Homo sapiens: one gene and its partners. The protein of the gene in region 1 interacts with the protein of each later gene in a pairwise test. Each region holds a gene or a part of one and is shown in the gene's direction. Other genes may lie near its edges. The genes, in order: MESD, FAM13C, AKNAD1, MCM9, MKNK2, CNOT9 and TEX48.

Region 1 (2,284 bases):
CGAAGCTGCCTCTTTACCTCCCCAGCAGCAGCCCCTGAGCCACCTCTGCAGTGTCCTAGGGAGGTTTTCCAAATGTTCACTTTTAACACGGGCATCCATTTATACAACAAAGGAACATCCAGTGTCTGTTTCTATTTTGATCTGAGCTGGATGTTTAATAGTTCAGCAAGCTAGTATTTTAATACATGAGATATCAGTAGCTGCTAGGCTTTGGAAAATCCAATTTTTCATTCCATATTCATGTAGAATTTGAAATAAACTGATAAGTGCCAGAGAATTGCTCTGACCCCTTAGCACCTTACTAGTACGTGCTGGCTGACTGATTGCATCTCTCTGCCCAAGGTTCATTGTGGGATCAGACCGTGCTATCTTCATGCTTCGCGATGGGAGCTACGCCTGGGAGATCAAGGACTTTTTGGTCGGTCAAGACAGGTGTGCTGATGTAACTCTGGAGGGCCAGGTGTACCCCGGCAAAGGAGGAGGAAGCAAAGAGAAAAATAAAACAAAGCAAGACAAGGGCAAAAAAAAGAAGGAAGGAGATCTGAAATCTCGGTCTTCCAAGGAAGAAAATCGAGCTGGGAATAAAAGAGAAGACCTGTGATGGGGCAGCAGTGACGCGCTGTGGGGGGACAGGTGGACGTGGAGAGCTCTTTGCCCAGCTCCTGGGGTGGGAGTGGTCTCAGGCAACTGCACACCGGATGACATTCTAGTGTCTTCTAGAAAGGGTCTGCCACATGACCAGTTTGTGGTCAAAGAATTACTGCTTAATAGGCTTCAAGTAAGAAGACAGATGTTTTCTAATTAATACTGGACACTGACAAATTCATGTTTACTATAAAATCTCCTTACATGGAAATGTGACTGTGTTGCTTTTTCCCATTTACACTTGGTGAGTCATCAACTCTACTGAGATTCCACTCCCCTCCAAGCACCTGCTGTGATTGGGTGGCCTGCTCTGATCAGATAGCAAATTCTGATCAGAGAAGACTTTAAAACTCTTGACTTAATTGAGTAAACTCTTCATGCCATATACATCATTTTCATTATGTTAAAGGTAAAATATGCTTTGTGAACTCAGATGTCTGTAGCCAGGAAGCCAGGGTGTGTAAATCCAAAATCTATGCAGGAAATGCGGAGAATAGAAAATATGTCACTTGAAATCCTAAGTAGTTTTGAATTTCTTTGACTTGAATCTTACTCATCAGTAAGAGAACTCTTGGTGTCTGTCAGGTTTTATGTGGTCTGTAAAGTTAGGGGTTCTGTTTTGTTTCCTTATTTAGGAAAGAGTACTGCTGGTGTCGAGGGGTTATATGTTCCATTTAATGTGACAGTTTTAAAGGATTTAAGTAGGGAATCAGAGTCCTTTGCAGAGTGTGACAGACGACTCAATAACCTCATTTGTTTCTAAACATTTTTCTTTGATAAAGTGCCTAAATCTGTGCTTTCGTATAGAGTAACATGATGTGCTACTGTTGATGTCTGATTTTGCCGTTCATGTTAGAGCCTACTGTGAATAAGAGTTAGAACATTTATATACAGATGTCATTTCTAAGAACTAAAATTCTTTGGGAAAAACCCTCAATTGTGATTTTAATAAATTAAAAGTAGCACATTACATGGTTAGAAAATGTCAGTGTTAAAGAATGGTACAAAGTGAAAAGTGTATCCCTCTCTTGCCGCCGGTGGTAGCTTGTCCCAGTGGAAGCTGCTGTTAACAATTTGTGCCCCCACATCCCCCTCCCTGCCCATCCACCAAAAAAAAGTACATTTACTTATGTAAATGTACTTATGGTGATGTATGTTTGTTTTGGCCTCACAGCATCTGTTTCCCCTTAATTTGGTAGCTGCTCACATTTCCCTCGAAAGAACCACACCCTCTGCATTCTCAGTTCTCTGCTTTGGATGGGACATTTGCCCTGCAGTCCCCCCACCCTCCAGGCCATGCCCTCTCCAGGGTGAGGCCTGTGTGATCTACCGTACTAGGGTACTAGGCCCTGAAAGAGGCTTTTCTTGTTCCTCCTGCATCTTGAACCTGGAGCGGGAGCTGTTGTAGGCCCCGCCCTTGGAGAAGAGAACTGTCTGACAGTGGGGAGAGAGCGCCACACCCTGGTGGCATAAACGAGTCCCTGAATCATGCCGTGGCTGAACCAAGCCCTGTCTGTGGGCTTTTTCTGTTGTACTCAGGGCAGTTTGATGGGGTTACTGTCCTGCATAGCCATAATGGCCCAGTATAAAGCAGCTGTTTTGATGAGATAATTGCTTTAATTAAGCAAAAGGTAGCAAA
Region 2 (3,500 bases), on another chromosome or scaffold:
TATTTTTCTGTGTCAACCCAAGTCTCATTATACACTCTATTAGTTTCCTCCAATTTTTGGTGTATCATCAACAAAATTACATATATAATCAAGAGATAAGGTTATTGATCTAATTTGGAAGAGAGATAAATTGCTTAGCTATCTTGAACCTCAGTTCCCATTTTATGAGCTGAAATGGTTGGACTCCTGGGATACTTTGGGAAGCTACAGCTGTCATGTGGGATATCAATCTTTACAAAAATAAATAAATGAAGAGTGTAACTTTCCCAAAGCCACAAGTTATTAAGTAGATGAAATGAGATTAAACTCATTATTCAACTCATAAACTCATCATTAAACTCATCAGTGCTACATGGGCTCCTCTGTATTCCTCTCCATTTAGGTATTGTATTTGACTTTTCAGTTCAGCAGGTTGAGGGTTGTCCTGATGGAAAGGGACTATTTTCCAAAAGCACCTTGAAACTCTCATGCGTGGTCTACTTACCTCTTAGTCCCTGGCAGGTTTTCCATTTTAGCCTACCAGGGATATTCTTTAGGACTGGACCTATTGAGTGAAAAGCTTTTTGCATTCAGCCAATACAGATGTAACAACTTATTTTCTACTTACAATCTTCCTTTCCAGTTGATTGCTACAAGTCCAACTTACCTTTTTGGTGATGTTAAGTAATCTAGTGAGAAATGTTATGTGGCTCATAAATTTAGAATATAAAGCATTTGTTATTTTTTTCCTTTTCCATACTTTTTTCTTTTATAAAATGTTCATGTAACTTTCCTTGTAAAATATTCCTTGGAGTAGTAACTTTGTCTGTCTGGACTGTCTGCTCCTATTATACTTTGGGTAAATATGTGACTTGCACTATAAAGTTCCTGATCTCTGCCTCTTTTGGATTAAAGGTATTCTATGGGAATTTTTCATTCAGGGAAATATTTGTGGAGATGTTATCACATATTCTAAATCTAAACAGTCATTACATATGAGAAATGACACTTTAAGATGTGCGTACACTCTTTTCATAAATTTGAGTTCCCTGAATAAATTTATATTTTTTAGCAATTTGAACTCAGGAATCTATCGTAAGGGGTTTGAGAACTTCCCAGTGTGCTACTAGTCCTGCCTACTGGATCTGCAGTGTCACTTGGTGTGCTTTTTGTCATACATACAGGGAAGTTAGTTATGTTCTATGTATAGTGTTCCACTGCACCTATGAGTCTTAAACCCACTTCAGATAAGTCTGTATTTGTCTATGAAGTTTTATGCCCCCTTGTGATGATATATTTCAACTAAATGCACAAGTGATGATCTTTTACAACTAAAATCAAACAGTTGAATGGCTAGGAAATATGGACCTTAATTTTGTTTATCTAAGACATTTTATTGGGAAGGCCTAAGCATCCATAAGTTAAAATAACCATGCAAATGGATTACTAAAATGTTTAAGGCACTATAAATGTTCTTGGTAATATTTGCCATACAAGAGGCATGAGAATCATGCAGATATTACATTATTATTAATAATTATTAGCCTGGAAGTGTGCTAAGCACTTTAGTATGTTTTATATAATGGAGAAACTCCTTCAGGAAAGACTTGGCAAAACTTTTCATTCTTGTCAAAGCACTCTTTTTTTTTTTTTTTTTTTTTTCTTTTGAGACGGAGTCTCACTCTGTCACCTGGGCTGGAGTGCAGTGACGCGATCTCGGCTCACTGCAAGCTCCGCCTCCTGGGTTCACGCCATTCTCCTGCCTCAGCCTCCCAAGTAGCTGGGACTACAGGCGTACGCCACCACGCGTGGCTAAGTTTTTATATTTTTAGTAGAGACAGGGTTTCACCATGTTAGCCAGGATGGTCTCAATCTCCTGACCTTGTGATCCGCCCGCCTCGGCCTCTCAAAGTGCTGGGATTACAGGCGTGAGCCACTGTGCCCGGCCTCAAAGCACTCTTATTAGCCAAAATGGAATATGCAAAACTACGGAAAATTACATAATTGATTATTAATGTTTCTCTGTAATAATTAGACAATTTCTTTACTTAGATCTATTTATACAAATTAAGGTGGTATTCAGACATCCAGCCATGATAAGTTTGACTCATAACACAGAATGGAGGCAAAGATATATGTTATATAATTTAGACAACAGTTAAGAAGAATGCTGTCTATGGATTTGTATACTGTTCTGAGTTCTGTACTAGAAATTGCAGGGCAATAAATAGTGTTGAAATACAAGTAGATACTATATTCTTAATTTGTATAGATTAGCTTGTTTTTTATTTGGTAAGAGATAGAAATATCTCTTTATCACTACTGGGAAAAATAGAAGGGAGCTAAAGATAAAACATTAAATATATGCTATTTACCTGGTTTCAGCCATACTAACATTAGAGAATACTTGTGGTTATATTCAGTTGTAATTGTGGTGACTATATCTGTGTCCTCTACCCCTTGAATTTCAAAGTCGTGGGTGGAAATGTTTTCAAAACGATTGGCTATCTTATTAACCAAGAAAACAAGAGCCTTCTGAGACCCTGTCGCAATTTTTCCCTTTAGAAAACGTTTCCTGACAACATATTTTTGTGGGAAGGCAAATGGTTTTAACTCCTGATATTACCAAGTTATTCTTCCAAGTAAACAGCAAGAGTATGCTGCATATGTATAAAAATCTATGCATTGTTACATGTCTAGCCTTAGTAGAATTAGTGTACAGAAGAGAACCACCACAATTTAGACTCTTGTCAATTACTTCAATCAAGGAACAGCTCAGTGGTTCTACTATATATTAGCAGAGATAGGTATTATAATTACAAGAAAATCTGGAAACGTTTCAAGTTTGTAAGACAGACCCTAAATGCTTTTCTTGTTACCATAGGTTTATGTTATTTTTATAATGAAATTCCTGTAGTATTTTCAGGTTAATATTTTTAACAACTGTATTAGGGCTGATCATTTTGTACAGCTGTAGGGGTGTGGCAAATAATGGAAGAATGACTGGACAAAGAATGCCTTGAAAGTTCTGTTTCTTGTTTGTTTGCTTCTCCTTAGATCTTTTCACTGACCCCTTTGTTGTAAGTCTAAGCACTAGACCACATATTTGCAAAACACTTATGACATTCAAGTTTTCAAAGGTTACTATTATTTAGAAACTTAGTAACACATGGAAGAAGGAGTGAATGAAGGTGAAAGGGAAGGAAAAGAAGACATGATGCAAAAACCAAGTGGAGGCCGTTACAGTATACTTTCTCATGTATGAATTATAAAAGAATGTTTAAATAATGACTTGATTCATTGTGAACTAACAAATGTATTTTTGTTTTGCAGAAGTCCACAAAAGGAAGATAGGATACCAATGGCAGATGAGTATTATGAATATAAGCACATAAAAGCCAAACTGAGACTATTAGAGGTCCTCATCAGCAAGCAAGATGTGGCCAAAACTATTTGAGGTTCAGGAAATGTTATGATCACTTTCACCCATGATATAAAGTAAAGTTTATTTTCCTCTGCCA
Region 3 (4,191 bases), on another chromosome or scaffold:
TGTATACAAAATTCATGAATCCCTGACGCCTGGGCGTGGCCTTGGACATATTATTCTGAGCCATCTCCTATTTTCTTTCATATGTAAATGTTATTCTTGAGCTAGGAATAGGAGAGAAAGAGAAAATTGAAACAGCCAGACCAAGTGTTTTTGAATGCTCTTAAAAGACAAAAAAAAAAAAAAAGACAAAAGTTTGTATCACATCAGAAGTTCCCTACGTGCTCTTCAAAGCTGATTGCTTGCAGTTAAAAGAACCCAGAAGAAGCAGGCACGCCATGATTTTGAAGCTCCGTTTTTGTTCTGTTATTCAACTGCAGTCAACTTCCAACTGTTGAAAAAAAGATGATTTAGAATTAAAGGGTTGCTTGTCTGTGTCGCAAGGCCCTTCAACTTGTTCACCTGTGATATCCAGAGACTCCAAGATGTTGGTGAGTTTCTATTGCAATTGCCATATTGCCATGGTTTTGCCCTTTGTGTTGACTGTAGCATTGTGCTGTTTGAAGACAGAGCAGCATACTGCTTTGTGTAGTAAAAATTGATGGATAATGTACTTAAAGCTTTTAGATGTACACTATTCACATTCTAAATGACAGATACAAAAAGGAATAATCAGAATTTAGATTGTTGAATCATTGCCTCCAACAGCCAACTCTTACCGTGACAAAGTCAGTAGGGCTGATCTTAGAAGTGTAGGACTTGTGAGTGTTACGTGGTTGTACTAACTGGTACCTTAGTGGAGGGGCAGATAAGGTAAGTAGAAACAATGCCTGCTTTCTCCTCCATGTCTGGGTCCTACACATAGTCCCCAGTTTGCCTGGTTTGTAGAGGTTTAAACACAGAACAGAGGGTGTTGGGAATGAGACAAAGAGATTGTCACAGGAACATGGACCCACGGTTTTCCTTTGGTGATGAAAACAATCCTGTCAATATGGAAAACTGTGTTATCACAAAATGGGCTTAGCGAATAGAAGAAATGTCACCTACCAGCCGGAAACAACAATTCGCTGACCATCTTTGGCCTCTTGCCACTAAGGAGTTTTGGTTTTCCCATCTGTAGAAATTCTTAATTGAGTCCATCAGATTCCCAGTCATCCTAGCCATGGTTACCTTCTTCTCTAAGTTGGCAGGTTAGTGAGCTTAGGCTAGCACTTCAGCATCAAATTTAGACTTCATAATAAAGTAAATCACACAGGGAATAGCTGTCAGCATGGTGACCACCTTGTTGTCCATTCCTACTCAGGGACTGGCCTGAAGTGTTTTCACAGCCTGGGTCACTGTGATGTCCTGGCCCTGTTTGCTCAAAGTGTTCATCTCAGAGTGACTTGTGAGGTATTGCTGAGCACATAATGGTCAAGATAGCTGCATAAGCAGGCGTGGCCCCAAATGTAGTCACCTGACTTCAGAAAATCAATTTGGATTCTACAGAAAGGTTCTGTTGGATTCTGAGTGGAACCTCTTTGGATATGCCTTTGGATTTCAAGATTGAGCCAAGTGTTGACATGGGAAGATGCTCCAGTTCCTCCAGTTATCTCAAAGAAGCTCATTACCTTGCTAAGGGTATGGATTGTCCTTTTCCAGAAAAAATCCTCTTGATATTTTGCATGCACACATGCAAAAAATAATAACAACAGAAGCTGTTTTCCTGTATGTAATGAGAGTGTTCCTCAGGTTTCTGGTTTATCTTAATGGTATCTCACTCCTTTTCTTTTCCTTTCTTTCTTTCTTTGTCTGTGTGTGTGTTTGTGTGTGTGTGTTTATGTGTGTGTGAGAGAGAGAGAGAGAGACAGGGTCTTGCTCTGTCACCCAGGCTGGAGTGCAGTGGCATGATCTCTGCTCACTGCAGCCTTGACCTCCTGGGCTCAACTGATCCTCCATCTCAGCCTCCCAAGTTGCTGGGACTACAGGCATATACCACCACTGCTGGCTAATTTTTAATTTTTTTTTTCTTTGTAGAGACAGGGTCTTGCTTTGTTGCCCAAGCTGTTCTCAAACTCCTGTCCTCAAGGAATCCTTCTGTTTTGGCATCCCAAAGTGCTGAGATTACAGGCATGAGCCACTGTGCCTGGACTTTTTTTCTTTTTCTTGAGAGCCAGAGCAAAATTCAAATTTTATCAGTTTTAATTAATTATATTTTAAAAGTGGGAATTTGGCCAACAAAGTATCTTTCCTTTCTATACAAGAAGGGTATGGCGTTTGGCAATGAGCTCCTGAAAATGTAAAGAAAGCATGAGGATAACTTTGGGACTGATACTTGGGTCATTAAAAGTCTTGCAAAACTAGAATTTGTTTTCTTCTTCTTCCATTCTCTCTGTAGGCATTTAAACATACTCTCAGGCCAGGCACAGTGGCTCATGTCTGTAATCCCAGCACTTTGGGAGGCTGAGGCAGGTGGATTACTTGTGCTCAGGAGTTCGAGACCGTCCTGAATAACATGGTGAAACTCCATCTCTAAAAAAAAAATTAAAAATTAGTCAGGTGTGGTGGTGTGCGCCTGTAGTCCCAGCTACTCAGGAGGCTAAGGGAGGAAGATCAGTTGAGCCATGGTGTTGTCACTACACTCCAGCCTGGGTGATAGAGTGAGACCTTGTCTAAAAAAAAAAAAAAAAAGATACTCTGTTTTTTTTTGTTCTAAAAAATTAGACAATATTTTGTTTAAACTTGCTTAGTGATTTATTTATTTATTTATTATTTTTTATTTTTTTGAGACAGAGTCTTGCTGTTGCTCAGGCTGGAGTACAGCGGCATGATCTCGGCTCACTGCAACCTCTGCCTCCCGGGTTCAAGTGATTCTCCTGCCTCAGCCTCCCAAGTAGCTGGGACTATAGGGATGCACCACCATGCCCAACTAATTTTTGTATTTTTAGTAGAAATGGGTTTTGCCACATTGGCCAGGCTGGTCTTGAACTACTGAGCTCAAGTGATCCACCTGCCTCAGCCTCCCAAAGTGCTGGGATTACAGGCATGAGCCACCTCATCCAGCCTGATTTTTTTTTTTACCTTCAAATATATTTATTTACAGATTGAGTTTTAAAATTGTCTTAAAGTTCTTGTAGAGATTATGTCTTTTTTGTTTTGAGACGGAGTTTCACTCTATCGCCAGGCTGGAGTGCAGTGGCGCGATCTTGGCTCACTGCAACCTCTGCCTCCCGGGTTCAAGTGATTCTCCTGCCTCAGCCTCCTGACTAGCTGGGACTACAGGTGTGCGCCACCACGCCCAGCTAATTTTTTGTATTTTTAGTAGAGACGGGGTTTCACCATGTTGGCCAGGATGGCCTCCATCTCTTGACCTCGTGATCCACCTGCCTCGGCCGCCCAAAGTGCTGGGATTACAGGCATGAGCCACCTTGCTTGGACGAGATTATGTTTTACATATGCAATTCCTTCCTTTATCCTTTAAATATCCCCACGGATAAGGAGTGCCTCACCTCTGGACCTGGGCATTCTTCAGTATTCCAATACTGAGACTGGTTTTGTTTTTTCATTTTTCAACAACAATGTATGGAATTCTTACTCTGTGCCAAGCCCTATGCCGAGTACTTTAGTGCCTTATTTCAGGTATTGCTAGTCCTATTTCTCAGAAAAGGCAACCGAGACTCACAAGAGTTAAATAACTTGCCAGATGACACACAGCTAGAAAGCAGAGAAGCCAGAGTATTCAGATCCATGCCTCTCCACTTCTGCTTTCCCACTGTGCCTTTCACTTTCTTGGGAAGCCTTTTCCCTTGTTCTTCAACTTGGATTAGAATAGCCTGTAATTCTTCTCATGAAGACATGCCTCACTTTATACTAAATGTTACCCTCTTTAAATGATTTAAAATAATCCTGCAGTGATATTCTCCTTTCTCTCCACCTCTCTAAACAGAGCATCTGTTTAATTTGGGTTCTCTAACATTGGCATGTGTCTATAAATTAAGATTTTTGTACAATGTCTCACAGATGCTTTTACCACATTTAGTTTGTACTCCTTTTTTTCTTGGACGACTTAGTTCAAAAAAATTTATTTTGGTCAAACATATGATTTTAGCTTTTGAGGTTACCTAATAAATCACCAGCTTATAGACTCATAAAAATTTGGTTGGAGAGAGAACCTCAGAGATCTGCTCACCCAACATAATCATTGTATGGGCAAGGGAGGCTGCCAGCAGCTGTGGTCACCCTGGGCTGGTGCTCCAGGGGAGAGGGAATCTCAGT
Region 4 (3,500 bases), on another chromosome or scaffold:
CATTTTTAAATAAGAAATACAAATAGTCCGTCTTCAGTGTGGGTTAAATGTGCTTTTGTGGGTTACTTAGGAACCGCTTATTACATTGTTCTATGGCAAATTATATTCCAAGTTCTAAACAACTGTCTTTACAAAAGCCATTTTGACACATAAATTATAAGATGTGGACTGTCCAGAATTTTTCCTTGTCACTAATTTTTTAAAAGGGAATTTAGTTTTTGGTAAAAATGCCTTGTTTATCTTTCTCTTATTTATTTAATCAGTGTCTTCTTGTGCCACTTGCCACAAATAAAGATTCTCAAACATTTTCAGCCTCAGGGAATGAAGTAGCTGCTAGCTAGAAATAGATCAGGGATTAACAAATGTAATACATGTTGCTGATGTCATAGGGCTGTGACTTGGGAGGCAGACATCCCACTATAACTAAAAATGGGCATCAAGTGCACAGCATACAAATTTACAGATTCAAATTTTTACATTTGTTATTGCCAATGAATATGTCACATTATTTTGAGAACTAGCCCATCATTAATTAGTTTAAAAACAATATCTAAGTTATGTCACATCCATCCCTATCCTGCCACGCTCCATTTAGGACTACCTTGTCCCTCTACTGGACCATTGTACTAGAGCCCCTACCCTGCATCCTGTCCACAGTCCTTTCCTGTCCAACCCACTCACCAACCCAGTCCTCATCAGACTTCCCTTCACAATGGCTCCTCAAAAACTCAATGCCAAATCAATCATATTTTCTGATTTCCTTTCCCTCCCTCTTTCTCTCTTTTTTGTTTCTTTCGTGTTTAGAAAAAAAATCAAAACAAAATGAGTGAATACACAGAAAGTTTTTGCCTCAACCACTCACTATTCTCCAGAGTCATCCTCACTCTCTACCCTCACCCCCTCTGCAAATGCCTGTCTTTCTCCACCTAAAAATGTCCAGAGGTCTTGAAAGGTTCAGTTCAAAAGCTGCTTCACAGTGTTTGCTTCTGTGTTCATCTTTTCTATCCACATAGATGAATATACATCATCCCTATTTCCCCTGGGAACTTTATTCTTTTAGAACTTAACCATATTCTGCCTTGTGTTACATTATAGCTAGTAGATTGCAAGCCCCTTAAGAAGAGTTTGGTTTAATTTTGGATACTTCTTAGCACTTAGCAAAGGGGTCTCCTCATAGCAGGGGCATAAAAAGTGTTTATTGAACGGTTACTTCTCTTTAAGATAGAATAGTTTCAGTATACTTTGTTGGAAGTTGATGTTTGTGATATCTCCTTCTGTCATTCTACATTTTCTTTCATAGGAGTTCGTAGATTTTCAAGGTGCAAGAGCAGCCCCATTTTATTAACAGCTGTAATCTTGCATTTTATCTGAACCTCACAATCAGTGAATTGTACTGTCTCTCCTGGCAGCCTCGTGTGCAAGCTGAACACAAGGACCACCATCCTGGCAGCAACGAACCCCAAAGGCCAGTACGACCCCCAGGAGTCCGTGTCTGTGAACATTGCCCTCGGCAGCCCACTCTTAAGTCGATTTGACCTGATCCTGGTTTTGCTTGATACCAAGAATGAAGACTGGGATCGTATCATTTCCTCCTTTATCTTAGAAAATAAAGGTACGTGAAGACAAACAAAGCATTCAAAATAACAGAGAGATTAGCTGTAACTAAAAGAAATTCCCTTTCAAGAAAATTAAATAAATACCCAAGATAGGCTATGTAGTACCAGGCAATAGAGAAAAGCTTAGACAGAAAGCAGTGAGAGGAGCCACTTACGGGGCCTCAGAATACTGAGTTGAAGGAAAAGGGCCTTTCTCTACCTGCCACTAATGAGACTAAAGTTGTTATAAATATGTGCCTTATGATGAAAGGGGACAACCTTATGATACAGAATTAACGCTCACCTCTTGCATATAAAACCAGAATGAATTGTGAAACAAATCTCTAAATGTAGGCTTCTCTTTAAATCAGATTTACTCAGGCCGGGCGTGGTGGCTCACGCCTGTAATCCCAGCACTTTGGGAGGCTGAGACAGGTGGATCACCTGAGGTCAGGAGTTCAAGACCAGCCTAGCCAGCATGATGAAACCCCATCGCTACTAAAATTCAAAAATCAGCTGGGCGTGGTGGTGCACACCTGTAATCCCAGCTGCTGCAGAGGCTGAGGCAGGAGAATTGCTTGATCCCAGGAGGTAGAGGTTGCAGTGAACAGAGATCGTGCTACTGCGCTCCAGCCTGGGTGACAGAGTGAGACTCCATCTCAAAAAAAAAAAAATAGATGTATTTGAATATTATTGATTACTGGGCAGACCAGAATTATTCTGAATAATTTTTAATAAAGGCAGGAAGCTTACCTTTATTAAGCTTAGATCATAAGATGCTGATTGTATGCTATGCAGACAAGTCTAGATTTCAATAACCACAAAACATGAAGGTTATCTTTTAACAAATGAGTACCAGAACTTTATAAAAATCCTTAAAATGAGATGTTTGCCTGTCCTAAGAACTTACTGACCCAACACCTGATACATACAGGTTACCCAAGCAAATCAGAGAAGCTCTGGAGCATGGAAAAGATGAAAACCTATTTCTGCCTCATAAGGAATCTGCAGCCCACACTGTCTGATGTGGGCAATCAGGTTCTTCTCCGGTACTACCAGATGCAAAGGCAGAGTGATTGCCGGAACGCTGCCCGGACCACCATTCGGCTGTTGGAAAGCTTGATACGATTAGCAGAAGGTCTATTTCATTCAGCGAATGATGCTTGTATTGAATGCTGCGTGTGTGCAAGGCATGGGGCTTGGCACCATGGATTCAAAGTTGAATGAGAATAACTCCCACTCTAAGGTGCTCATAGTCACTTAAAAATAAAGGCTCTGAGCCAGAAGATCTCTGCTCCTCTGAGGACAGATTATGAGTATTGACTGGAATGTGGTGTCATTAAGAAAGAGGAATCTTTGTGCCATCTCGGGACCTCCTAGAACTTAATATACCATTCACTTAGAAAGCCTTACTTCTGATATTTTGTTTCTCAGTGGTAGCTCTGTTAGCATTTTGAGTAGGACAGTTTCTTGTTTGGAATTGTTTCCCATATAGCATCACTAGTTCTTGCTCATTAATTGCCAGTTGCAGTCCACCCCTGTCATTATAGCAACCAACTTGACAATGCCATGCCCTGCCCCATTACATATATACATATAGCTAACATGTATCTTAATTCTTTTCTTCTAACATTGGCTTTTACATTTTAGCTTTTGTTTAAATCTAAAAAAAGAATTCACATGAACTGAATAATAAAATAAAATAATACAAGCTTAATAAAAAATACTGTAAAACAAATGGACTTTCTTTTTTCAAGGATTTATAGCTAATATTAGGGCAAGAAATACTCAGAATTTAGAATTGCTTGTTTGGTAGCTTTGAAAAGCTCATAGATCATAAAGAGGAGTGCCAGAAATGAAAAATGAGTTTTAATTTTGTGTAGTTTTATAAAAGACTAGAAAATG
Region 5 (3,500 bases), on another chromosome or scaffold:
CAAGAAATGACCCAGCCCCAGCCTGCCCAGTGCAACAGGCCTGGATTTGAATCCTGGCCCCCAGGGCCCAAGGCGGCTTCCTTAGCCGGGTATCAGGGCCCACCAGGGGCTCCCTCCAGGGGTGTCTGGCACTGAAATGGGAGAGTGCAGGATGTGGTCTGGGCAGGGCCTGGCACACTCGCGCCTGTGGGTGCCTCTCCCGTGAGCCCCCAGGACCAGTACAGCACTGTGTATACTGACTCGGTAACTGGTAGCTGCGGGGTTGGGGGGCTGGAAGCAGATGAGCCTCTGGTGGGTGGCGGGGGCGTAGGTGCACAGAGCTGGCAGGGGAAAGGTGTGCCGGGCAGCTGCGGGACATGGGCGGAGGAATGCAGGTGTCTGGGCTTGGGTAGGGGCAGAAGGCAGGGGTGATGGAAGCAGAGCCCCCACCTTCAGCAGGCCCCAGAGCACCAGGCACTGAATTCTTACCCCGCCAGCCCCAGGCACTGAGCGAAAGGGAGGGGAGCAGCTTAGGGGAAGGAGAGGTGGTTGTGTGCCATCTTAGATGGGGGAAACTGAGGCCCAGGGAGGACTCAGCTGCCCTGAGATGGCCCAGGAGGCCGTGGGAAAGCAGGCACAGCCACCAGGCTGGCAGCCCGCCTAGTGACTCACCTCCTTCCCACTGCCCCGCTGCCTTTGATCCCCGCGACCCGCCCCAGAGGTCAGCCGTCCCCATTCTGTGGACAAGCAGACGGAGGTGCAAGACACGGCTTGGGCCCCACGGTGACTCAATCCTGGCATCAGAGGCAGGGTTCCCAAGAGCCAGCTGCTTGTGTCTGTCCCCTCCCCGCAATGCACCCCTTTCCCAGAGGCCCCCAGGGCTCTGCAGGTGGGAGGAGGTCTTCCCCACGGCCCTGTGGAGGTTGGGGCCCATCTTTCTCTGGGGTGGGGCTGTCCTGGGCACTGCAGGGTGCTGAGCAGCACCCCTGCCCCACCCCACTCCGTGCCAGGAGCTCCCCCAACCGGTCACAACCACAGATGTCCCCAGACATGGCCCAGTGTCTCCTGGGGGACAGAATCACCCCCTGGGTTGGCAAATTCCATGGACCCCCTAAGAGACTCTGCGTCCCCTGATCTTGCCTTGCTGAGGTGCTAGGAGGCCTCACGCCTTCCACATGTGGCCCACACCTGTGATCCCAGCACTTTGGGAGGCCAAGGCAGGAGGATCGCTTGAGGCCAGGGGTTTAAGACCAGCCTGGGCAACGTAGCAAGACTTTATCTCTACAAAACATAAATTTAAAAAAGAGAGAAATCCACACACACACTGAGTGTGGGGCAGCGAGGAGGTGAATCCCAGGAGCTTGGGGGTCCCCTGGTTTATGCTGTCTGCCCCTTCGGGAGTTGATCCTGGTGGGAGTTGATCCTGGTGTGTGAGCGGGGACGGAGTTGATTTTTCCGTAATGCTCAGCGCAGGGCTTGTCAGTGTGGACGCTGCGACACTGGGGCAGGATAGGTCTCCCTGCTGCGTGGGCAGGGATGGGGCCTGAGTGCCTCTCCTCTCCTCTCCCCTGCAGGGGCAGAACCCCTTCGAGCTGGCCTTCTCCCTAGACCAGCCCGACCACGGAGACTCTGACTTTGGCCTGCAGTGCTCAGCCCGCCCTGGTGAGGGGCCCGAGGGGGAGGAGGGCACAGGGCAGCTGCTGTCGCTGCCATGGCAGTGGCCAGCCCCTGCAGGGGGGTGGGGGCCGGCCGGCCAGGGCCATGTCCTGAGCCCCCTGGGCGTGCCTCCTGGAACAGACATGCCCGCCAGCCAGCCCATTGACATCCCGGACGCCAAGAAGAGGGGCAAGAAGAAGAAGCGCGGCCGGGCCACCGACAGCTTCTCGGGCAGGTTTGAAGGTGAGCGGGGATGGCGGGCATTGGGGGAGCCGGGAGCGGGGAAAAGCCAGGGTCCCTCTCACGCCCGCCCCGCTGCCCGGCAGACGTCTACCAGCTGCAGGAAGATGTGCTGGGGGAGGGCGCTCATGCCCGAGTGCAGACCTGCATCAACCTGATCACCAGCCAGGAGTACGCCGTCAAGGTGGGCCCGCGCCGCGCCCTGGGGAACCCAGCGCCTTGGGATCGGTGTTGAGCGGGGGTGGAAACAGTGTGTGGCATTCCGGCTGTCCGTCCTACAGCCGGGAAGACCCGTGTCTAAAAGTGGCCACCGGGCCCTGAGTCCAGTCGGGAATGACAGTGAGGGTGGCCCCTCTGGTACCAGGGTGGGGGCTTCAGACAGAGGCACTGTGCCCATTGGGTCCCCTGGGCCGTCCCTGCCTCTGAGCTGTCCCTGAGGGTACATGACAGTTTGGTTTCAAGGATCAAAATGCAATGTCATATCCCAGGGCCCAGAGGGGCTCTGCGTTTGGGGAACCTCAGTGCAGGCCCGTGAGAGCCCCCTGTGTCACTCTAGCCCTGGGCGGCTGCTGGACCCAGGGTGTGGCCGAAGGGCTGGGAGCAGGAGCCCTGTTGAGGCTCTGGTTGTGACCCTGTGACCTTGTGGGCCGGTTGGATCCCGTGTTCCAAGAAATCTTCCAGGCTTCCCTCGTGACCTGGCATCCGGCTCCCGGGCTGGGTGGGGTCCCAGGAGGGCTGGCTGCCTGGGAAAGAGGGCCAGGTGTGCCCTGGCGAGCAGGGCTCGCCAGGAGCCTGTGGGTCCTGGTGGACGGCCAGGCTAGAGCTTTCCTCTGAGGAGAAGGAGGAAGAAGAGGGGTGGCCAACCTGGGGAGGTTACTGGCTAGGTGCTGGGACCACAGTGGCAGCAGGCAGGGACAGACACAGTACGGACGGTCCCTGCCTCCTGGGAGCCCCCAGGCAGGCCAAGGCAATGGTGCAGGAGCACTAGGCCCCTCCGGAAGCACTTCCACACAGCAGGCGTTCCTCTGAGCACAGCCCTCTCCTGGTGGCCCAGCCTTGCTTCCTGTCTTTGTTTGACAGATAGGGACACTGAGGCTCAGGGGGTTAGGTAGCCTGACTCATGCTGTGTGGCCTCTGGGGGATCCTAACTGGTGTCTCAGAGCCACCTCCCTGGTCATCTTGCCACATTGACCTGGTGTGGTCAGTGTTGGGATCTGCAGAGCCTGGGGGACTTCCTGCTGGAGGTGTTGTTGGCCACTGACGTCCGGGAGTTGGTCTGGCCAGGTGGCAGTGGGAGGAGGAGGTGTCCTGGGCGAGTCAGAGAGGCGAATCGCTGGGCCTGTGGGTCTGAGGAGCGTTGTTTCGTTCTATGGGGACTGGGGTGTGGGCCCTCTGCCCTCGGGGTCATGCTGCGGGAAGCCACCCTGGGGTCACCTGGTGCCGTGAGGCTGCTGGCTGGATGCAGAGCCCCCATGCTGGGACCTCAGAATAGGCCCCTTCCATGCCAGGAGGGGCTGCGCCCCCTCCCTGAAGCAGCATTCTAGCCAGCCACCCAAGGGACAGGACGAGGTTCAGTTTTGTCCAGAACCATCTGCAGTGCCTGCTGGGCACAGCTTTCAGCAGCG
Region 6 (2,371 bases), on another chromosome or scaffold:
GAACTTAGATTCTTTTAAAAATCTGAAATGCTGAATTTTAGTAGCCATCAGTTTCATCTTCTCACTGTAACTCTCCATCCTACTGTGAAATTCCAGAGAGTCTAGGCGATTCCAAAGGAAACCTTATGATGCATTACTCCTGTTGTTTGAATTTTCTGTTGCTACTCTACGTGGTCAGAGAGAGAAGTATATTTTCAAAGATCTCTTAAAAAGGAACACAGCCCAGAGGGCTCTTGAATTCTATTTCCAATTCTGTCCTTGATTCCTATAAGTTTCTTGAGCTAATTATTTTATCTGCTTATGTTCATAATCTTTCTGCCAGAAATCATACACTGTAGATATAATGCATTTTAGAAATGTTTGACCTTTTGCTTTGTAAATCCATAATTCATGCTGAAAGCAACCTGCTCATATTCTGCTAAACCACGTAATGGAGCAATTTCTGTGTTCCTGGGAAGAGAGCTAGCTTGATTTGATTTAATGTGAACTCAGTCTCCTGCCACTGAGTTTATTCAAGCCCTACCTGTTTGTTGACCATTTTATCCTGTTCTTCAGTGGTTCTTGTTTCACTAAAGTTTAAAAATGTGTTTATTTAAAATTCTACTTGTACAAAGAAAACTAGTCTGAGTGCAAAAACTATAACTTTGTTTAAAATAGCTCTACACATAGTTAACATTTACCTTTTTTAGGTTTTCAGATTTGACTTTCTGCTGGTCATCTTTTCAAAGAAAATGAAACGTTTAAAAGTTCATCTGATAATACTGCTACCATAGTTTTGTTTTCACTGCTCATCTCTTATTAAGGTTTTTAACCATAAAACTGAAGCAATTTCTGTAAAGACACAAATTGATAACTTAGTATAGAATTAAAATTCATTAAGTTATCATAAGTTTGATGATATCCTTGTTAATGTACTGATTTTTGAATTATTTTATTTGCCATAATCCATATATTTCTAACATGAGTATTTTGACAGTATTTAATAAATCAGAAAGCTGTTTGAATGGAAGTAAACTATTGAACCTTTTAATTTTGCTTTTTCATGAAATTCTACATTGGGGCATCATTCAGAAAATATTTGTGGATACAGATTTTGGAGATCTCTAAGCCTATGCCTAATATAGCTTTAGAGAATTTTAATGGCTTCTTAAGGAGCCATAGATTCACAGTATTCTAAATATTTATGTCTAAGAAGGGGGCTCTTCCCTGTCCACAAAATGTGGGTTTATTTGTTGGTCTCCCTGGTTGGTTTGTTTGTTTCTGATGTAGGGCACGTGAAGCACTCAGACAGTGCCTCCCTGACCAGCTGAAAGACACAACCTTCGCCCAGGTGCTAAAAGATGACACCACCACGAAACGCTGGCTTGCACAACTGGTGAAGAACCTGCAAGAGGGCCAGGTCACCGATCCCCGGGGTATCCCCCTGCCCCCTCAGTGATCCTTCCCTGTTCCCTCCCACTACTCCCCCAAGTTGGGGAAAGGAGGGGGAACCTACGAGAAAAACAGCTCAGGTTTTATCACCGACTGGGAATAGACAACCTCAATGCTGAACCGCACTGGAGAAAAGGGGCAAGGTACCCCTGCTGAGGTGTATGGGCTGCCATCTCAGGCTGTCTTGAGGACCTGGGCTCCCTCTGCTACTCCCAGGAAATGGGCTCCTGACACAGCAGTCTGCCACCACAGCCCCAGGAGGGTGTCAACACCAGCAAATGCTGTATTTGCAGCATGTCCAAGATGACCCTTCTCCCCTACCTCTACCTAGCCACTGGCAGGGAGGGGAGACAGTGGTGATAGCAGCAGCACTCTAGGCATGGTGAACGCCTGGGACCAAGCCATGTGGCGTTTTTTATTTTGCCTTTCTGGAAGACTCAAGATATGTCTCTTCATTCTCTCTCAGTATTTGTTTACTTTGGTTTTTTTGTTTTTAATCTCAGAGAGAGGTGTGTTTAGTGGGCACAAGCTGTAATATTCAGCAAAACTTTGTCGACTGGCACTGTTTACAAGTCTGTTAGCTGCATAAGCTCAATAAAAAGTTGGTCTGGGCATTACATCCCCTCTGGCAGGCCAATAGCTGCATCAAGCTGTTGGGAGAAATGGGAGGGCAGGGGAAAGATGTAAAGCCAAAGTACAGCAGGAACCCACCACCTGTTTCCCTTCCTTCTCCCATTCTACTCCCAGTCCGGAATGCCACGAGGACCTTAACCTTGTTTCTGGCTTTAGCTGCTAGTTTTCCCAAATCTCAGTGCTTTCCCTTTTTGAACTTCCCTTCTATTAAACTTAAAACAGATGTCTTAATTAATCAGGCTGTCTTGGAAGGGTATTGTATTGGGAGACAAGGGGCGGTGGTGGACCTCACCTTCAATCCAAGTTT
Region 7 (4,137 bases), on another chromosome or scaffold:
CAAAATGGAGAACCTTCAATTACCATTTAAGAGTGTGGCTTTAATCATTCTGAGCAAACTATCGCAGGGACAGAAAACCAAACACCGCATGTTCTCACTCATAGGTGAGAATTGAACAATGAGAACACTTGGACACAGGGCGGGCAACATCGGACACAGGGCGGGGAACATCACACACCGGGGCCTGTCGTGGGGTGGGGGGAAGAGGGGAGGGATAGCATTAGGAGATATAACAAATGTAAATGATGAGTTAATGGGTGCAGCACACCTACATGGCACATATATACGTATGTAACAAACCCGCACATTGTGCACATGTACCCTAGAACTTAAAGTATAATTTAAAAAAAAAAAGAATGTGGCTTTACCTGTGAGCTTTCAAAGGCTGTTTAACTCACCATCAAATATTTATTAAAGGAATTCAGCACAGCTGTGGAGTCACATCACCCGCCCCAACCACATGAATGACCCCACAGCTGTGCTGAATTCCTTTGCTTTCTTCTGTTTCTATTGTATCCAGTGACCTCTCTGTGCATCAAATGATAGCACTGATTGAGAACATGTTAATCCAATGTGGCTTCCCCATATATGAATAGTACTTGGTTGTCCTAAATAAAGGAATGGAAAGAGTGCCCCATAAGCTGAGAGATTTTGTCAGGACTCCAATACAAAGTGATTCCTTCTTTTCTGAAAAATAAATAGGGAAGAAAATGTCACTTCATTTTTGCATATGTTATTAATAACTACCCTTTCTTAAAGTGCTTACTACATCTAGATACCATGTTAAATGTTTACCTGATTTCATTTAATACTTAAAAATGCAAACAGGACATATAATTATTATTATTCCTGGCCAGGCGAAGGCCACACCTATAATCCCAGCACTTTGGGAGGTCAAGGTGGTGGGGTGGGGGGGGGGGGGTCACTTGAAGTCAGGAGTTCGAGACCAGCATGGCCAACATGGTGAAACCCTGTCTCTACTAAAAATACAAAAATTAGCCGGACGTGATGGTGCATGCCTGTAGCCCCAGCTATTTGGGAGGCTGAGGCATGAGAATCGCTTGAACCTGGGAAGCGGAGGCTGCAGTGAGCCAAGATTGCACCACTGTGCTCCAGCCTGGGTGACAGAGTGAGATTCTGTCTCAAAAAAGAAAAAAAAATTATTATTATTCCCATATTGCAGAGGGAGAACCTGAGCGTGAAGTCACTTTGCCTAAGGTTACTACCCAGTGGGCGGACAGAGACAGAATGGCACCCAGATCTACAGCATCCAGTGTTGTACTGCCCCCTTCTGGCCATCCTCTAGGTGCTTCCTGAGGCCCCAGGACTTGTGCCCCAGTATACAGTCTGGTGGCCAGCATGGCATCGTGCTCAGCAGAACTTCTCCCTCCTCCTCGCTGTTGTGGTCCAGTCCAAACATCCCAGCCCCAACATTCCCTGGTTCCCCAGCTCTGTGACATCACAGACAGCCTTCTGTCTACTCTGCCAGCTGCAGGTGAGTGGGGCTCACAGTTTAAACCAAAGGGCGGGAGGTGATAATTTTTCTGTACTAAAAGGCACAATGTCCCCACCACTCCTGGACACCTATTCATTTTGCTCCAAGAAGCAATCCCCATCCTTCATTTGCTCTAACCTCACTGTTTCTCTCTCTCTCTGGGTCCCAGTCTCCACCTGTGCTGAATGACCTCCCCCACCCCCGCCCGCAGCGCCAGAAGCCTTCCTGTTTGACCTCATTCATCTTTCTTCTGATCAAAGTGCAATGGGGTCACTAGAGACCTGAAGTTCATACCCACTGGGGACAACCCAAGGGCCCTCTTCTTTGGTTTCTGCTTCCCTCTAGAGGGGGTCACTGGTAGTGCAAGAAGTGCCACACATCCCCTAGGCATCTCCCTACATATTCATCAGCATCAGAACCTTCATCTGTATTTATTAAGCCTTTACGACACACCAGAAAGCTGTGCTAAGCACTTTCCATCATTATTTAATCCTCAGAACTACCTTCTATTGTAGATACTATTATTCTCATCCCCATTTTACAGGTCAGAAAACAGAGATTCAAAGAGGTCATAAATTCTAAATTTCCTAGCTAACAGTAGATCTCCAAGAATTATACCCCCAGAGAATGTGCTTGTAACTGATACACTGCTCTCCCTAAGAGCCTTTTCATTTCTTGAAGAGGGTTCAAAAACTCAAAGCTCTCTGCTGTCAACACTTAGAGGAGAAAGTGGTTCTACTACCCTCTTTCTTGCAAAATTTTCTAGTAAAGATGTGGAGAGAGCATCAGCACGGGGTGTCAACAAACCTGCGCTTCAGATCGCTGCTGATAATACGGACGATCTCCACGGTTTATTTTTAATTGAAAAAAATCAAGGTGCAAAACGTGGTGTATAGTAAGCTATCATTTGCATTAAAAAGAGAGAAAAAGAGAATTTGAATAACTACATTTTCTTGTATATCCATAAGCTGCTTTGGTGGAAGATGCCTGCATTCACTACATGAAACAAAAACTGAATTTATTTCTGGTTAAACAAGGGAGAACTGTGCTTGTATGGCAAAGTCTCTGAACAAAGCTCATGGCTGATGCATAAGGGGCTTTGGGAGGTGTTGAGTTCGTGGACTGGTGGTGTTTCAGAGGCAGCAGTGTTTAGGAATGGTAGACCTTTAGCTATGAAATGTACCTACTGGCATGTGTCTGTTAGAATGGTTACCAAGGGAGTTTCATTAATAGATTAAATGAGTGTCACACAGGTTCTGGGGATTCGTTGTTACCGTGGTTACAGGGCAATCCATCGTCACCTAGGAATGTGGGAGCTTCTCTTTTTAATTCTCATTATCTGCCTTCTGGTCTCCCTCAACTAAAGGTGCAGGAAAGACCCTCCAAGATTGTCCAGATCTTCACCACTGTCATTGGCTTTTCTTGAAAACACAGTTCCATTTTTCCATGTACAGAGATCTGGTTTTCATTTTGAGTATCAGTCTGCCTCATTTCTTCTCATTTTTTCTTTGAATCATTTGTTTCACCATTTGTCAAACCAGAGGCTACATAAAAGCATTCAGCTCTCTGGACAACAGAACCTGAATGATGCAAGACAATGATAATTAAGGCCAGGCACAGTGGCTCACGCCTGTAATCCCAGCACGTTGGGAGGCCAAGGCTGGCAGATCACCTGAGGTCAGGAGTTCGAGACCAGCCTGACCCAACATGGGGAAACCCCATCTCTACTAAAAACTAAAATTAGCCATGCGTGGTGGTGCATGCCTGTAATCCCAGCTACTCGGGAGGCTGAGGCAGGAGAATCGCTTGAACCCAGGAGGCGGAGGTTGCAGTGACCCGAGATCGCACCATTGCACTCCAACCCTGGCAACAAGAGCAAAACTCCATCTCAAAAAAAAAAAAAAAAAAAAAAAGGGACAATGACAATTAAAAGTATTTTCAAAAAGATCTGAAAGCCTCTCTGGAGTCATGCCCCATGATTTCCCTGGCATGACCATCTACCTTAGATAGCCAGGCTGCTTTTTCTTTGGGCTTAGCTATAGATTAACCTCACCTGTGATATTAATCCAGGCACAACGGGAGTGTTAGCAATGGTGCAGACTCCCCTAATTAGCTAAAATAAAACCCGAAGGTTTCTGTGATCCATAATTACTCAAACTAAGGATTTTAAATTGGTCAGGTGTACCCTAGGGTGTGGGCTACATGATTTGCTGTGTCAGTCAAGGTGAGGGGAAAAAAGGCACTTTAAATTGTTCAACTCAGAATCCTCAGAAGTCTGTTTCATCTACTAGTAGTTAAACCCCCAAGAAGGGTTTCATCCCTTCAGACTCTGTGTAAGAAGACATAGTCCACCGTGGGTGCTGGAGAATCATGCACTGGAATGGTCTAAGTATTCATCATGCAGAACAATTAGTCTTAATTATAGTTGGAATAGAAGAGTCTGATCTCCACATAAGAAACAAACCATATCAACAAGCAAGCAGTATAGCTGTTCATTTATATTTATAGACAATGCCCTTTGGGAGTTTAGAGGCAAAATAGGAAAATGTTAAGTGCAAAGTTCTCCTCAGAAAGACTCAGTAGACAGATATGGACAGCTGTCCTTCTGACATGGAACATTAGTTCTTCTAATGGCCTTTCTG

What was found.
Region 2: the proteins of MESD (region 1) and FAM13C interact in binary tests that used the Homo sapiens proteins (3 or more experiments, as listed by UniProt).
Region 3: the proteins of MESD (region 1) and AKNAD1 interact in binary tests that used the Homo sapiens proteins (3 or more experiments, as listed by UniProt).
Region 4: the proteins of MESD (region 1) and MCM9 interact in binary tests that used the Homo sapiens proteins (3 or more experiments, as listed by UniProt).
Region 5: the proteins of MESD (region 1) and MKNK2 interact in binary tests that used the Homo sapiens proteins (3 or more experiments, as listed by UniProt).
Region 6: the proteins of MESD (region 1) and CNOT9 interact in binary tests that used the Homo sapiens proteins (3 or more experiments, as listed by UniProt).
Region 7: the proteins of MESD (region 1) and TEX48 interact in binary tests that used the Homo sapiens proteins (3 or more experiments, as listed by UniProt).

Annotation. Positions count from the first base shown.
Region 1 is NC_000015.10:80,977,536-80,979,819, reverse strand, and holds part of MESD (LRP chaperone MESD precursor), read left to right. Parts: intron 1-342; coding exon 343-601; 3' UTR 602-2,284. UniProt on the Homo sapiens protein: Chaperone specifically assisting the folding of beta-propeller/EGF modules within the family of low-density lipoprotein receptors (LDLRs).
Region 2 is NC_000010.11:59,247,550-59,251,049, reverse strand, and holds part of FAM13C (protein FAM13C), read left to right. Parts: intron 1-3,279; exon of another isoform or gene 3,280-3,312; coding exon 3,313-3,436; 3' UTR 3,437-3,500.
Region 3 is NC_000001.11:108,854,295-108,858,485, reverse strand, and holds the start of AKNAD1 (protein AKNAD1), read left to right. Parts: upstream 1-1,391; 5' UTR 1,392-1,557; intron 1,558-4,191.
Region 4 is NC_000006.12:118,827,160-118,830,659, reverse strand, and holds part of MCM9 (DNA helicase MCM9), read left to right. Parts: intron 1-1,409; coding exon 1,410-1,612; intron 1,613-2,529; coding exon 2,530-2,733; intron 2,734-3,500. UniProt on the Homo sapiens protein: Component of the MCM8-MCM9 complex, a complex involved in the repair of double-stranded DNA breaks (DBSs) and DNA interstrand cross-links (ICLs) by homologous recombination (HR).
Region 5 is NC_000019.10:2,044,745-2,048,244, reverse strand, and holds part of MKNK2 (MAP kinase-interacting serine/threonine-protein kinase 2), read left to right. Parts: intron 1-1,553; coding exon 1,554-1,641; intron 1,642-1,776; coding exon 1,777-1,878; intron 1,879-1,961; coding exon 1,962-2,059; intron 2,060-3,500. UniProt on the Homo sapiens protein: Serine/threonine-protein kinase that phosphorylates SFPQ/PSF, HNRNPA1 and EIF4E. May play a role in the response to environmental stress and cytokines.
Region 6 is NC_000002.12:218,592,839-218,595,209, forward strand, and holds part of CNOT9 (CCR4-NOT transcription complex subunit 9), read left to right. Parts: intron 1-689; coding exon of another isoform or gene 690-735; exon of another isoform or gene 736-1,009; intron 1,010-1,269; coding exon 1,270-1,438; 3' UTR 1,439-2,371. UniProt on the Homo sapiens protein: Component of the CCR4-NOT complex which is one of the major cellular mRNA deadenylases and is linked to various cellular processes including bulk mRNA degradation, miRNA-mediated repression, translational repression during translational initiation and general transcription regulation.
Region 7 is NC_000009.12:114,679,393-114,683,529, reverse strand, and holds the start of TEX48 (testis-expressed protein 48), read left to right. Parts: upstream 1-1,337; 5' UTR 1,338-1,495; intron 1,496-1,664; exon of another isoform or gene 1,665-2,371; intron 2,372-4,137.